Regions from separate parts of the Homo sapiens genome. Here region 2 is linked to region 1. Evidence: fine-mapped expression QTL. A gene starts in region 1. The other region holds a variant in brackets. All regions are shown on one strand. Distances are from middle to middle.

Region 1 (2,500 bases):
GGGAAAAAAAAAAAAACTAAAACTTCTTTAACCCACCAACTACACAGAGGATGATCTTCCGAAGTTCTCTTCCTTACAACTCATCACATCTTTTGAATGGTATTTTAATAACTAGCATTCTATTTATTTTCTATTCTTGGTCCATTGTACCACCTTACGAGAAGTTAAGAGTAATCTAAAATTTAAGGTAGGTCTCTAAACTATCAACAAAACACTATTAATGTACCTAAAATGAAAACTTGCGAATTCCAGGGCTAAATGATTCAAACAAATGTTAATAGAAAAGGAGGGCACCAATCTGACCATTAGCCAATTTAAAAATTTACGCATTACTTGTTATACATAATCAGGGCAACTTTAAGACGCCATTCCAGGCAGATTTGGGGTAGTAGGCGGCTGGCTTTTAGCTAACTCTGCTTAGCTGCGGGGTAAATGTCAAAGGTCAGCCCCATGGCGAATCTCCCTAAGCCCCCTGTCGCAACCGAAGCCGATGGAATCAACAAGACAAAGATGCTCCTGACCCACTGGCTAGAATCGTGAAGAAAACGCTAATCCATGTCAAATGCACATAAGGAAATTTTTCCATGCAGAGACCAGACAGGGGAAAAGGGGAAGGGAGAAGGAGAAAATACAGGGTTCGACCCGGGCCATCGGAAGACAACCAAGCGCTGACTTGGGGGTAAGCCCTGGACTAGGGGCCTGTAGACCAGGTTCGAGCGCTCACACTCGCTAACTGCGGAGCCTTGGCCAGCCTCAGTCTCCGAGTCTACAAAACAAGGATAATCATAAAGGGCTCCCACCCGCCTCACCGAGGGCTGTGAGGCTCTTCCGAGACAGAGGACATGGAGCCATTTCGTAAACCGGAGCGCACGGTACAGACAAGAAACTGTTATCCGGCCCAGCAGCTGCGAGACCCCCGAGCGGAATGCAAGTGGACCCCAGGCAAAGAGGACAGCAGGGGACGGAGCAGATCTGGCCAAGTTGTCCCGTCCCCGCCCAGAATCAGCCCCGCGGCCCCACAGAACCGCCTGCGTGTCACTTCCCCCCCACCCAACCCCGCCAGGGCCAGCCTCCGCTCCGACCTCCCCGCCTTCCGTCCCAGCCCCTCGAGCCCCAACTCCCCTCCCCGACGCGACCCTCAGACTCACGGCCTGAGGGGCTCCTCCGGCAAAACAGCGGCTGGCTCGGACCCTCCCTCAGAGCACACTAACCAGCAGCACCCGGGACCGCCAGCTACTCGCCGGATGTACGTCACACCCCTCCCCGGGACTTCCGGGCGCGTAATGGGCCCCGCCCCCTCACAGCGTTACGCCTCTCTGCCCCGGTGCCGTCCCACCAGCGACTCGGGCCGCGGAGGGGCGGGCATAAGGCGTGACAAAGCGCGCTCGGGGTCTGGCCCCGCCTCGGCCCCGCCTGCTCCCGTCTGGCTAGCTGACCGCGCGAGACGTGGCAGCGCCGGAACCCTGGGTCCGGGGCTGGGTCCTGGAGTCCCTGAGCGGCCTGGTACACTCGGGATCGCGGCTTCCCATTCCAGACGCACCAGGAAAGTCAGAAGTGGGTACCGACGGTGACATAGGTCCTGGGAAAGATGAGTTGACCTTGGGGCCCTCCACTTGAGGTGGATCCCTCCAAGCTTTTGCTTTTTTTCTTCCTTGCTTTTTTTTTTTTTTTTTTTTTTTTTGAGGCGGAGTCTCACTTTGTCGCCCAGGCTGGAGTGCAGTGGCGCGATCTCGGCTCACTGCAACCTCCACCTCCCGGATTCAAGCGATTCTCATACCTCGGCCTCCCGAGTAGCTGGAACTACAGGCGCATGTCACCACACCTGGCTAATTTTTTTGTATTTTTACAGAGACAGGTTTCACCGTGTTGGCCAGGCTGGTCTCGAACTTCTGACCTCAAGTGATCCGCTGGCCTCGGCCTTCCAAAATGCTGGGATGAGAGGCGTGAGCCACCGCGCCCAGCTGCTTTTGCTTTGAGTCGCACTTCCTTGCCCTGGGGTGGCCTATGTTTTAGAAAAACAGAAAAACAGCTAATATTTATTGTGCACTTATGTTCCAGGCAGAGCACTGGGTACTTTGCACGCTTTGTCTAATTTCACCGTCATTGGAGTCCTGTGACTCCAGATGCTAGTATTATCCTTATTGACAAATGAGAGAGCAATGTTCAGAATAACCTACCATGCCCAAGTTCACACAGCTAAGTGGCAAAGCAACGTGTTCACCCCAGTATATTTCGCATGCATTTTCTCATTTAATTCTCAGGACAGTCCCACGAGATTGGTACTATTATTACTCTCATTTTACAAATAAAACAGTCTAATGGAAAGATGAATGACGTCTGTGGGTTCATGAAGATCTCAATTCTCCTTTAGTAAAATTTAAATTTAACATAATCCCAATAAAAGTACTAATAGGATTAATAGGTCGTGTGTGGTTTCGTTCTTTTTTTTTAATTACCCTATTTGTTCCTAAAATTCGTATAGAAAACCAAACAAAACTAG
Region 2 (3,024 bases), 48 kb after region 1:
TATCAAATAAGAACCTACTACATACTGACATTGTGCTGGGAATAAATTGGTAAACAACCCTTCTCAAAAGGTTGACTATTAGGCCAGACATGGTGGCTCACACCTGTAATCCCAGCACTTTGGGAGGCCAAGGCAGGCGGATCACAGGTCAGGAGATCGAGACCATCTGGCTAACACAGTGAACCCCGTCTCCACTAAACTGCAAAAAATTAGGTGGTGGACACCTGTAGTCCCAGCTACTTGGGAGGCTGAGGCAGGAGAATGGCGTGAACCTGGGAGACGGAGCTTTTGCAGTGAGCCGAGATCACGCCACTGCACTCCAGCCCGGGTGACAAAGCAAGACTCCATCTCAAAAAAAAATTTTTTTAATTAAAAAAAAAAAAGGTTGACTACTTAAGAAAACATGATCCTCTCATTACTTTACCACAAAGAGCTTGACCTGAAGAAGAGGGAATCAAAACTCTAAACATAAAGTCAGCAGCTATGACAGCTTGTTGTGTGCAGGTATTAAGTGCTTTATTTTTTGAAATAACCATACCACCTACATACTGTGAATAGCTCAGGGAGGCGATATGGACGTCTCAAGGAGAAAGAAAGGGAGGCAAGTTAGGTAAGCTAGGAATTGGCCATCTTGGGATTTGAACTCTGGTCTGTCTGGTGCCAAAAATCAGTGCTTTTGACTACTACCATACACTCTTTCTTGACTGAACAGACTTGCAACTCAGTCTGTAGAGAATTTATATAGCTTATAACCAGTCCAAAAAAGAAGAAATATTTCAGGAAAGAATAAACGTTCAAATCTGAATTTAAACATTGTAAATATTTAGTTTATCTTGAAAATAAGTTATTTAAGGAAGCATTCTGAGTTAATTATCCCTTCTTATGTTTTCAAAATCTACCATAGAAAAAACTCTCCACAGGTATTCAAACCTTTTTTACTAATAGCAGTAAATTAATATTTAGTAAGCTAAAAAGTACATTGTCAGCAGTTGCATGAAGACATACCTGAGGGATGGCACCATAGTTCCAGATATATCCTTTATACGGGAACAAATTCGCAACATAGCGAAGTTTTCCTTTTTTCACATCTTGTTTAATAGGGTTTAAAGGGTCCTTTGTAGCAATCTGAAATAAGAAAATTTCAAATCTTTGCATATTTGGATGTGAAATACTATTCAAATAAGGATCTGAGGAAATGAATTATGGTACCTATGTTCCCTAATTCCACTTTAATGATATATTTTATCCCTAACACTTTTATAATTGAACTAAGGTGTTTCCATAATCGGCCATTAAGTGAAAGGTTATGTGAGGTATAAAGGAACTATCAAGAAGGGAAAAAGAACATTTACTAATTCTAGAAAGCAAAGACTAAAATTAGCTGGAATAAATTCTAATGTTTGAGTAATAAAAATACCACAATTTTTATTAAAAGGGCAAAATAAATATTATCCAATTTTAGTTTTCCTTCACAGAATTTAAAATTATTCAAATACTTGGGTATTTATTACACAAAAAAAGTGATTACTGTTAAGAGTTTGTGATATAAAATATGTTATAAATATCCATAACAAAAAGGCAATGATGGTAGGTATCATCAGAAAGAAACTAACACCATGCAACTGAAATTCCAATGAGAGTATCTGTGGCTGGGGTGACTAAGGAGGGGTCAGTGAAGGGCTTACAGAGAGTAAGAGGAGAAAAAGTAATTCTAGGCTTTGGGAACATTGGAAGCAAAGATGTTGGGAAGAAAAGTTTGGGGCATATTTGTAAACAGTTGAGTTTAGCTGGAGCCCAAAGGGAAGACTAGTAGGCAATGGGAGATACAACTAGAAAATAGACTGGGACCAGACAGAGA[A/T]AAACCTTGACGTTCAGATGGTTCATCCTTGATCAAGTCAGTGTGACTAGATCAAAACCAATATCCTAAGTCTGACTCAAATGTAAGGTGAAATATTACCTCCATTTTTGCATTAGACCAGCGTGGTACTTCAACTACCATGTGAAACACATCCTGAAAAAACAAAGAGAAAGTGAGATGGTCACAGGAGCCAATTTGTTCTCTGAGGGAGCATGCACTATTTCTTCCAAAGTCAAACTGTTCATTGTATCAGATCTTTGAAGTCAATTGGATTTTCAACAAAATGCATCAAAAAAAGAGAATGATGGATGAAGAAATAATGCAATTATAGGAAAATATTCATTATAGAATCAAGGTGGTCAGTATATGATTGCTTACGGTATAGTTCTTCTTAATTTTTATTTACTTCTAAATTTTTTATAGAGGCAAGGTCTTACTGTGTTGCCCAGGCTGGTCTCAAACTCCTGGCCTCAAGTGATCCTCCTGCCTCCACCTCCCAAAGTGCTAGGATTACAGGTGTGAGCCATCTTGCCCAGCCAACTTACTATATAAATCTTTTAACTTTTCTGTATGCTTTAAGTGTTTCAGAATAAAAGCTGACAGTGGAAAGAATGTTCCTAGGAAGGAAACAGTTCTTAAATAAACGTAACAGAACCTGTATCTCTGAAGAAGACCATCTTCAAAACACTCTCCAAAGGCCAGTGTTATTTCCTTCAGAGACACTGCAATTACTCAAAATGTTTTTGGAGCTTCTATTTCAGAGACAGTTTATAAGACAAACCCCAAGTCAGACTAATTACTTGATCATACTTTAGTTTATAAGACGAACCCCACATCAGCCTAATTACTTGGTCATACTTTAGTTTTAGCATCAAACAAAACTCATCAGCTTCATTATCCACATTATTCTCCCAATTCGGCTGTTTTTAGAAATAAAGCCCCCCTGAAAAGGACTTTGACCTTGAAGATAAGAGAATATGCTTTAAAAATATTTTAATCAATGATAGTTCTACTGTAATTGGCTTATAGCCTTAAACTGACTACTATAAAATAGATGATATATTCAGGGAGTAAATTCCCAGATGTGCAGTTTAAAAACACAATGAAAAAACAAACCATACTTTGCCAACCCATTTTGCACACTGGAGTTAAATATGCCATAGGTT

The links. PIP is the estimated chance that this variant, and not a neighbour inherited with it, causes the effect.
Region 2: its variant is the best candidate, but not a certain one, in a credible set for the expression of SAR1A in skeletal muscle (FUSION, PIP 0.74).

Annotation. Positions count from the first base shown.
Region 1 is chr10:70,169,265-70,171,764 of GRCh38, forward strand. SAR1A (secretion associated Ras related GTPase 1A) reads right to left here and starts at 1,250. Exons shown (of 7, transcript NM_020150.5): 1 at 1,149-1,250. RefSeq lists enhancers at 216-874, 875-1,531, 1,665-1,744 and a silencer at 1,175-1,534.
Region 2 is chr10:70,216,807-70,219,830 of GRCh38, forward strand. PPA1 (inorganic pyrophosphatase 1) reads right to left here. Exons shown (of 11, transcript NM_021129.4): 3 at 1,958-2,011; 4 at 1,006-1,125. Among named protein-coding and RNA genes, the nearest start is that of PPA1, 15 kb to the right of the region's middle. The variant A/T (reference allele first, on the strand shown) is at 1,859.